Regions from separate parts of the Homo sapiens genome. Here region 2 is linked to region 1. The links come from fine-mapping of genetic effects on gene expression. A gene starts in region 1. The other region holds a variant in brackets. All regions are shown on one strand. Distances are from middle to middle.

Region 1 (5,371 bases):
GCACCTTCTCCAGTCACTGCATGGACTCCACCCCATGGACAAGAAACACCTGAAGAGCTACCTGTTTTTACTCTCCTAATAACTTACACCCCCATATGACCAGAATAAACTTTTAAAAAGCAGTTAACTGACAAATGGAAAGAAATCAGGACTACGAAAATACTCCACCACCACCACATGCATGTGCACAGGGAATTGTTTACTTGATACACGCAGTACCCCAAATCAACAGTCAAAAGTGCCCACAGTTAACTAAAAATATCTTAGCCTGACCTAAATATCTTGGTTTTGAAGCAGTAAAGTGTAGGCCTTGCTCTAGAAGTTGGTCCCTTAAAAAAAAATCCAAACAAAGCCATGATTAGGCCAACCAGGGACCCTCGTACATTCATCTATCTCCCTCAATTGAAGGCAGGACCATCCAGTTAACAAGGGGAGAGTGCTGTGTAAGCTAATGAACCGAAATTTTTTGGCAAATGAACAGTTTCTCCCAAACTATTCACCATCAACAAGGTTTAAAAGAAGAAACAATGGAATAAGCTAGAAGTCCTGAATTTTAGCTGACTCTGGAGGCCAACTGCTTGGGAGTAAATGGAGAATACCTTAACAGAGCAGACAGTTCTGGTCTGCTCCTGACTAGATAGGTAACCTTGGGAAATTTACTTAAGTCTCTGGGACTCAGTTTGCTCATCTGCAAATGGGGTTGGACAACCAGTCCTGAAAGATTCCTCTTAGATCTAAAACTCAAGAACTACACAGTATTCCTACTCTCTTCTTCCCTCCAACACAGATTTTTATGAGAACAGAGAGGATAAATCTAGCACTAGACTTTAACTCAAACCAAGGTGCACCTTATATATTTAATGTCCCCAAGAGCCATCAGTGCTCCACAAAAGTAGATGGAACCAATTAAGACAAGTTATCCAGAGATCCTTCAATAAGTCATTCTTTACAATTAAAAACTAGTTTTTCAGTCCAATGTCACTTGTGCCAAATGCTCAAAACAGTATCTCCGCCAATCTAGCCACATCTAAGGTGACAATCATCCGCATGGTACACATTACACATCTGGGTGATACTAAGTGGTTGAAAAATTCTCTCCACATACAACATTTTAAATTATGGAAGTTTTTTGGTTTTTCAATTTTTCTCCTTCAGAAAGGCAGAGTGAAATATCTACTTACACACCTGCAAGAAACGTTTAAGACTTTCTTCAAGACAGAACCAAACAAGTCAACAACAGAGGTAAAAATTTAAAATCAGAACTATTAAAAAACACAAGTGGAACCAACTTTGAGGTAAAAAGGATTCCAATTTTCCACCGTAAACTACTAAACAAGGTTTGTGAACAAATCAACTTGGATGCGAATAGCGCTATTCAATGAAGACGACCCGTAACTGTAGATCCAATCAGTAACTAAGGTACAGATATTTAGATCATTCCTAATCAATACAGCGACTTCGACTAAGCAACATTGCATCTATTTTCATGCAACATCGCTTAAATCATTTACAGTTTTGTGTGTTGTTTTTTTTTTCCAAATGGAAAATACCCCTTTTCCACTCAAAACAGACCCCAAAGCTTTCAGACGAGTTCGGGCGCGTTCCAGGTGGTATGGCCGTAGATCATACCCCTAAGCGTTCAATACAATCTTTTACTTACTTACACAGTCTCCAACAAGTCTGCATTAAAAGAAAACCTACCCAAAGTGTAACTGGACTTTAATCAATATGAAACAGTGATTGTCGTTTCTCGTTAAACGTAAAAAGCAAAATGGAGTTGTAAAGAGTTTCTTTCCCATTTCAACTCCGACAGCCACGCGCGCTTTCAGCGGCCGGCTACACTGCGCGGTCGCGGGGCCCGGCCCAAAGCCCCCGCCCTGCCCGGCGCCGCTGGGAGAGGAAGCTCCGGGGACCGAGGGCGGGCAGGCGGGCAGCCTGGGCTCCACCAGGCCCGGCCGGGCGGGGGAAGGGGCACAGGAGACTACCGGGCGCGCTTCCGGGGACTGCGCGGGCGGGGTCGCCGCTTGGGGCGCGGGGCCCGGGCTGGGAGTCAGGTCAAGGGTCAGGGGCCAGGGGCGGCTCGGCCACGAGCAGCCGGTGGGGCGCGGCCGCGGCGGTGCGGCGGCCTGCCGGCCGGAAGAGTACCGGGCTGGCGGGCCTGGGGCCCCGCGGCGCCTGGAGGGAACCCTTCCGCTCACCTCAGGCAACGAATCCGAGTCCAGCCTCTTCGCGCCGGGGACGCCGGTCCGCGAGTCGCAAACTCGGAGACGAAGGCGGGTAGCTGAAGACCAGACCGTGGACTAACGAGAGAACCGACGGAGGACCGCGGGCGGCGGGAGGGTAGCGCGAGAGAGCGAGGGCGGGCGGCGGCGGGAGGGCGGGGAACGACGTGCGCGCCTCCGAGTGCCCAGCGGGCTCGAGCCGGCACAGGTCGCGGCCCCGCGCACGCGCGCGCACTCACAGCTCATCCACTATTGCTCAGGAGCCCGTCCACGCCCTAAAAGCAAAACCCTTAACCAATCATTGCAGCCGCGTGGGGCATCACGGGAACTCCGGGGCTATAAAAGACCTGGTTGCTATTTTGTACTCCCGGAGTCACTCATCCCTTAAGCAAGCAGGGTGGGGTTAGGTGCGCGTGCGCGGTTTTAATACTCCTCCCCGAACTGCCAACTCTTCACGCACGCGAAGTAGGCCCCACCCTGGCTGGGTTTACGCGTGCGCACTAACGGGCCTGGTCCCGGAAGACCACACGCGTGCGTGGTGGGGACTACGGTGACAGTACCCCGGGTGGGGCGAGGGCCAGTCATGGCGGAGTCCTGGTCTGGGCAGGCCTTGCAGGCTCTGCCGGCCACGGTGCTGGGCGCGCTGGGCAGCGAGTTCTTGCGGGAGTGGGAGGCGCAGGACATGCGCGTGACCCTCTTCAAGCTGCTGCTGCTGTGGTTGGTGTTAAGTCTCCTGGGCATCCAGCTGGCGTGGGGGTTCTACGGGAATACAGTGACCGGGTTGTATCACCGTCCAGGTGAGGCTTCCTACGAACCTCCGTGGGCTGGCCGCCCCCGCCCCCACCCTCTCCCGACTGTACCATTGGGTTCCCCACTATCCTGCAAGAGGCTCATCAGAACTTAACATTGGTTCACGGCCTTACTACCCTGAACGCATCTGACCTCGGAAGCTAAGCCAGGTACTTGGATGGGAGAACTTAACGTTGTGCCCTGACTCATGCCACCATACCATTTTACGCCAGAATCCCCACCAGTCCACCCATCACATTGTATCTGTTCCTCAGAACTCTCACCTGGCAATACCATTAGTCCCTTAGGACCCTCACCAGACTTCACCAAACAATACCAGTGGTCTCTAACCTGACCTGGGCTGATGCCTGCTCAGATTCCCACCCCAGCCTTCTGCAGCTCTGGATGTGTTTCTGCCTCCAGGTCTGGGTGGTCAGAATGGATCCACGCCTGATGGCTCCACGCATTTCCCTTCGTGGTGAGTAAATCTGTCCATACCGCAACCCCATGCTTGGCATTCCAAGGACACTCCTGTGCTGGTGACAGAGAGGGGAGTTCTCAGGCTTTAAGCCCACCAGCTTAATGGCCTTTGCAGCAAGCTTCAAGTCTGCACGTAGAGCTCAGGCTTCAAGTTAGGGTGACACCAAGGTCTGGACAGTCCATCATCATGCTGTTCAGCAGCCTGTAGGATAGGTGGTGGTATTGTCATAATTTCAGAGAGATGAAATGACAGGTTTGTTGGATTCCACTCTGCACAATCCCCTCAGTTGGGAAGGCAGTAATCTCTGTCCTGAGCACATTGACCTCATCAGGGTCAGCCTCCTCTTCTGCAAAACATGCGCTCACTAATCAGGGCATTCATTCAGATAATCTCTGGGCCCCTATCACGTGATAGGGGCCACACGAGGCCCAGAGAACAAAGACAACCCGGGCCCTGCTCATGGGGAGCCAGGGATTTATTAGGGGAGGGCGGCAGTGCATGGGGCAAGGGTGGTCAGGGAAGGCTTCTCCCAAGAAAGACACCTAAGCCGAGATCAAATGCCACAGGGTGACAAAGTGTACCAAGCAAAGGGAATGGATTGAGCAAGGCTAAGAGGGAAGAATACGGGTGACATATTAGAATAGGTAAGACTGTGATGCTGGAGCTTGAACGTGAGAGCTTGTTGGACCCTGGGAGCCATTGAAAGACTAACTCAGCAAGGCTGTGGTCTGATCTAATTTGCCTTTATAAATGCCTACTTCATGGCAAGTAGATAAAGGGGTCCAAGAGTTAGGGCTAGAGGTTAGAAAGGCTGCCACTGCCCAGGTTTCTGTCTTAGAGAAGAGGCCAGGCCCCATGGCTCATGCCTGTAATCCCAGCACTTTGGGAGGCTGAGATGGGCGGATCACTTGAGGTCAGGAGTTTGAGACTAGCCTGGCCAACATAGGGAAACCCCGTCTTTACTAAAAATAGAAAAAATTAGCTGGGCATGGTGGCATACGCCTGTAATCCCAGCTACTCGGGAGGCTGAGGCATGAGAATCACTTGAACCCAGGAGGCAGAGGTTGCAGTGAGCCCAGATCACGCCACTGCACTCCAGACTGGGCATCAGAGTGAGACTCTGTCTCAAAAAAAATAACAGGCCGGGCATGGTGGCTCACGCCTGTTCCTAGCACTTTGGGAGACTGAGGAGGGTAGATCACCTGAGGCCAGGAGTTTGAGACCAGCCTGGCCAACATGGCGAAACCCCGTCTTCACTAAAAATACAAAAACTAGCTGGGTGTGGTGGCGGGCGCCTGTAATCCCAGCTACTTGGGAGGCTGAGGCAGGAAAATTGCTTGAACCCGGGAGGTGGAGGCTGCAGTGAGCTGAGATCTTGCCATTGCACCCCAACCTGGGCAACAAGAGTGAAACTCCGTCTCAAAAAAAGAAAAGTAATAACAATAGTAATAAATAAAAAGAATAAAAAAACTAGAGAAGGATGGCAATGCCGTACTAACATGGAGAACCAGGAAGAAGAATGAGTCTGCAGGGAGAAGGTGCTGGGCCCAGGGTGGGCTGTGGGAGACCAGCAGAGAGGTCTAGATTGTTATGTGACCTTACTGAGCCTAGCTCAGCCCCCAAGAAGGAGCTTGGGAGAGCCAATTTCAGCAACTGTTCTGCCCATGGAATAACCACTCTCTCTTCTCTCTCTCCATCACTTTCAGGGAAATGGCAGCAAACGAACCTCTCAAAACCCACAGAGAATAAGGGAAGGCAGCAGAGGGTCTCCAAGGGCATCACTGGGTCTGCTGGCTTCTACACTGGGTTCTGCTACTCCCCAGACCTCAGGGACAACTGCCGGGGGTTCAGGGTTGGTAGCAGGGAGTACCCAGTGCCT
Region 2 (5,371 bases), 270 kb before region 1:
TATGGGCTTACTCACTGGGTGGCACATTGATTGCAAAGTGTATTGAGCATGAAAGCCACAGAGTTCACAGCCCCAGGGGTCTCCCAGGTTCCAGAAGAGGGGGGCACAGTGGCTGCAGTCTTGCCCCAGAGTGCGGGGGCAGCACAGGCTTCAGCCTCAGATGGGCACCACATGAGGACATTGTCTCAAGGGTCACAACTGTAGCCTGGGGAGAGGAAGGCTTGGCCAATCTGGGGAGTGAAAATCCTACCCGGTCACCCTGGGATGTCCCCACCCACAAACTCATGCTGGCAGCCCTCTGAGCCCAGGTCTATAGGGGAACCTGCCCCCAATAGTCACACAGGTTCTTTTCTGTTTTCCCTAAGCATCGGCCAGGTTGAGAAATAAAGGGACAGAGTACAAAAGAGATAAATTTTAAAACTGGGCGTCTGGGGGAGACATCACATGTCGGTAGGTTCCATGATGCCCTCTGAGCCGTGAAACCAGCAAGTTTTTATTAGTGATTTTCAAAAGGGGAGGGAGTGTATGAATAGGGTGTGGGTCACAGAGATCACATGCTTCACAAGGTGATAGAATATCACAAGGCAAATGGAGGCAGGGCGAGATCACAGGACCACAGGACTGGGGCAAAATTAAAATTGCTAATGAAGTTTCGGGCACCATTGTCACTGATAACATCTTATCAGGAGACAGGGTTTGAGAGCAACCTGTCTGACCAAAATTTATTAGGCGGGAATTTCCTCATCCTAATAAGCCTGGGAGCGCTATGGGAGACTGGGGCTTATTTCATCTCTACAGTTTCGACCACAGAAGATGGCCACACCCAAGGGGGCCATTTTAGAGGCCTACTCTCAGAGGCGCATTCTCTTTCTCAGGGATGTTCCTTGCTGAGAAAAAGAATTCAGCGATATTTCTCCCATTTGCTTTTGAAAGAAGAGAAATACAGCTCTGTTCCGCCTGGCTCACCAGCGGTCAGAGTTTAAGGTTATCTCTCTTGTTCCCTGAACATTGCTGTTATCCTGTTCTTTTTTCAAGGTGCCCAGATTTCATATTGTTCAAACACACATGCTCTACAATTTGTGCAGTTAATGCAATCATCACAGGGTCCTGAGGCGACATACATCCTCCTCAGTTTACGAGATGACAGGATTAAGATATTAAAGTAAAGACAGGCATAGGAAATCACAAGGGTATTGATTGGGAAAGTGATAAGTGTCCATGAAATCTTCACAATTTATGTTTACAGATTGCAGTAAAGACAGGCATAAGAAATTATAAAAGTATTAATTTGGGGAACTAATAAATGTCCATGAAATCTTCACAATCCACGTTCTTCTGCCATGGCTTCAGCCGGTCCCTCCATTTGGGGTCCCTGACTTCCCGCAACACAGGTCACTGCTGCGGAAGCCAGGCTTGCCGTGGGCATAGGCAGGGACATGGCTGTGGTGCACAGAATGCTGGCAGTGCCCACTGTGGGGGTCACAGGCAGCAGGATCATGGAGATTGATATTGCCACACTGGCAGACCGGTATGGACTCTTCTGGGGTATCCTCCTGGCCAGGTGCCCAAAATAGCCACAGAAGCAGTGGTCACAGCTGAGGCCTGGAGAGGACTGGGGTATATGTGTCTTCCTGTACCCTGGGGGCCTGTGGGTCTCAGATATGCAGCCAGAAAGTCTGAGGTCTGGCCAGGAGGGACACAATAGGTATATTATAGCCCATCTTCCTGGCTTTCAAGGTCTATACCTATAATTCCCCCCATTCAGCCCTCCTTCCTCAGAACAGGAACTCCTTGAAGATGGTGCCCAGCTCAGCATACAGGTGGCATTGGGAAGATTTGTCATGTGGACCTGATGGGATTGTGAACAATTGACCAGGGCTGTGGCTTTGTCACTGCCAACCATGCCTCACCTGCATAGCCAGGTAAACAGAAGACTAGGATATGCCCACTCATGCTGTCCACATGGCAGGAACTCCCATGATAGAGGCTGGAATTGGGGTGCCCAGGACAAAGGCAGAGCCAGCACCGCTGGCCCAAGCCTAGAGTGGGGTCTCCATAGTAGCCATCCAAGCACCTGGGGGCAGTAGCACATGGTATGGGGCCTGTTCAACCCATCCAATGACAGTGCTCACCTTTTACAGTGCCAGCCTGGCAGGCCTGGCAGATACATATAAGGGGGTGGCACAACTCAGCATGCCCATTGCAGGCACAGGGCTGGCACTGCCAAAAGCTTCAGTAGCCAGGGAGGCAGTAGTCACGGCAGCAACCAGCAAGTCCTTCCTGGAACATGCACTGCCCATACACAGGGTTATAGATGGCACTGGTGGTACCTTCAGCATATCAGTGGCACTCTGTGGAGAATGACAAAGCAATCAAGCCATGCAAGGACAGGAGACAGCTGGCCCCCAACCTCATGCCTACAGGCCCTGAAGGCTCATCACTGCAGCCAGAGGCCCAAAGCCTGCTTTCCAGGCACACAGTGGTCACAAGTATGACCAATGATATGAAGATGGCAGGGATACTGCCCACATAGCAGGCCCCACTCAGTGCTCAGTGAACCTTGCAGATGGCACACATGCTGGCAGAGGAAGGGAAAGATTAGATGAACCTCATGGTGCTCCTGCAACCCCTACCCTGAAGCCACTTCAAGCCTGGCACATACACTCACTGAGGCCCATCCCCATGGAGCAGAGCTGAGATGCTGCAGAACAGGCAGGCACAGGCTTCAGGCATCGTGCTGGAGAGGCCTGGCCTTGCTGCCTCCATGAGCCTGCCTGGTGGAACTCCTGTAAATGCCTGAGGCCC[C/T]AGGGTACAAAGACCCCAGCCCAGGCAACGTGTTCACCCATGGCAGGTGCACAAGCTAGCAAGAGGGTCAAGGGAAGCCAGCAAGAGGCAATCAGCCCCACTCATTAACACTTACTTGCCACCTTTCTTGGATTGGCCCTCATCCAAGGGGGACATCCCTACCCCCACCCCTCAGCCCCCCTTCTGTTTCCTAATCTCTCTCTTTTTTTTTTTTTTTTTTTTGAGACAGAGTTTTGCTCTAGTTGTCCAGGCTGGAGTGTAATGCTGTGATCTTGGCTCACTGTAACCTCTACCTCCCAGGTTCAAGCAATTCTCCTGCCTCAGCCTCCCAAGTATCTGGGACTACAGGTGCATGCTACCATACCTGGCTAATTTTTTTTTTTTTTTTTTGGTAGAGGTGGGGTTTCGCCATGTTAGCCAGGATGGCCTCAATCTCCTGACCTTGTGATCCGCCCAACTCGGCCTCCCAAAGTGCTGGGATTACAGACACCCGCCACCACGCCCAGCTAATTTTTGTATTTTTAGTACAGACGGGGTTTCACCATGTTCACCAGGCTTCTCTCAAACTTTTGACCTCAGGTGATCCCACCTCGGCCTCCCAAAGTGCTGGGATTACAGGCGTGAGCCACCATGCCCGGCCCCTTGAACCCCTAATCTGTTTTGAGTCAATTTTTCCTCCATCTCCAGTGGCCCCAATCTAGTAGAGAGAATGCCATCTCTCACTCAGAATCATTTCGGGAGCTTGCATCTGGGCCTTCCACCAAACAATAAATTCTCCCCACATCTCTTCCCTGCTTAAATCTCTTCCATGGTTCCCCACTTCCCCTGGGATAAAGGTTAAGCCCCTCTCCTGGCCCAAAAGGTCCTATGAGATCTGGCACTTGCCTATTCTTATCTTCTGTCTTTTGCATGAGCTGTTTCCCCTGCCTGGGCTCCTCTGCCTACACTCTCCATCTATGTAGGTCTTAATCCTCTTGCTGCAACTCCAGGCCTCTATGATCCCCTGCCTCCCAGCCTCACTGCACCAATCCTGTCTTGCTATAATTTATGTCTCAGAGACTGGGCGCAGTGGTTCACGCCTGTAATCTCAGCACTTTGGGAGGGCGAGGCAGGTGGATCACCTGAGGTCAGGAATTCAACACCAGTCTGGCCAACATGGTGAAATCCCGTCTCTACTAAAAATACAAAAAAAAATTAGCTGGGCATGGTGGCAGGCGCCTATAATCCCGGCTACTCCAAAGGCTGCAGCAGAAGAATCGCTTGAACCCAGGAGGCAGAGGTTGCAGTGAGCCGAGATCGTGCCATTGCACTACAGCCTGGGCAACAAGAGCGAAACTCTGTCTCAAAATAAATAAGTAAATAAACAAACAAAGAGGCCGGGTGCAGGTGGCTCATGCCTGTAATCCCAGGACTTTGGGAGGCCGAGGCGTGCAGATCACCTGAGGTCAGGAGTTCAAGACCAGCCTGGCCAATGTGGTGAGACCCTCTCTCTACTAAAAACACAAAAATAAAATAAAATAAAATAAAACAAAACTAGCCAGACAAGGTGGCCAGCACCTGTGATCCCAGCTACTGAGGAGGCTGAGGCAAGAGAATCGCTTGAACCTGGGAGGCAGAGGTTGCAGTGAGTCAACATTGTGCCACTGTACTCCAACCTGGGTGACAAGAGCAAAACTCCATCTCAAAAAATAAAATAAAATAAAATAAAATAAAATAAAATAAAATAAAATAAAATAGGCCAGGCGTGGTGGCTCACGCCTGTAATCCCAGCACTTTGGGAAGCCGAGGCGGGTGGATCATGAGGTCAGGAGATCGAGACCATCCTGGCTAACACGGTGAAACCCCATCTCTACTAAAAATACAAAAACAAAAAATTAGCTGGGCGCAGTGGCAGGCACCTGTAGTCCCAGCTACTTGGGAGGCTGAGGAAGGAGAATGGTGTGAACGTGGGAGGCGGAGCTTGCAGTGAGCCAAGATAGCGCCACTGCACTCCAGCCTGGGTGACAGAGCAAGACTCCATCTCAAAAAATAATAATAATAATAAAATAAAATAAAATAAAAAAATAAAATTGGCCAGGCACAGTGGCTCATGCCTGTAATCCCAGCACTTTTGGAGGCCGAGGTGGGCGGACCATGAGATCAGGAGATGGAGATCATCCTGGCTAACACAGTCAAACCCCGTCTCTACTAAAAATACAAAAAAATTAGCCAAGCATGGTGGCGGGCGCCTGTAGTCCCAGCTACTACTCAGGAGGCTGAGGCAGGAGAATGGCATGAACCCAGGAAGCGGAGCTTGCAGTGAGCCAAGATTGCGCCACTGCACTCCAGCCTGGGCAACAGAGTGAGACTCCATCTCAAAAAAATTAAAATAAATAAAATAAAATTTATGTCTCTGAGCCAGGCGCAGTGGCTCACACCTATAATCCCAGCACTTTGGGAGGCCAAGGTGGTCAGATCACCTGAGGTCAGGAGTTCGTGACCAGCCTGGCCAATATGGTGAAACCCCAACTCTACTAAAAATACAAAAATTAGCCGGGTAGCCAGGTGCGGTGGCTCAAGCCTGTAA

The links. PIP is the estimated chance that this variant, and not a neighbour inherited with it, causes the effect.
Region 2: its variant is the best candidate, but not a certain one, in a credible set for the expression of RHOA in whole blood (INTERVAL, PIP 0.54).

What each region holds. Positions count from the first base shown.
Region 1 is chr3:49,409,622-49,414,992 of GRCh38, forward strand. It overlaps RHOA (ras homolog family member A), which reads right to left and starts at 2,355. Exons shown (of 5, transcript NM_001664.4): 1 at 2,199-2,355. TCTA (T cell leukemia translocation altered) reads left to right here and starts at 2,802. Exons shown (of 3, transcript NM_022171.3): 1 at 2,802-3,019; 2 at 3,435-3,489; 3 at 5,199-5,371. The coding sequence starts at 2,806. The coding sequence ends at 5,241. RefSeq lists enhancers at 1,502-2,476, 2,375-2,669, 2,605-3,014 and silencers at 1,795-1,884, 1,895-2,174, 2,235-2,534.
Region 2 is chr3:49,142,113-49,147,483 of GRCh38, forward strand. No RefSeq gene overlaps it. Among named protein-coding and RNA genes, the nearest start is that of LAMB2, 12 kb to the left of the region's middle. The variant C/T (reference allele first, on the strand shown) is at 2,806.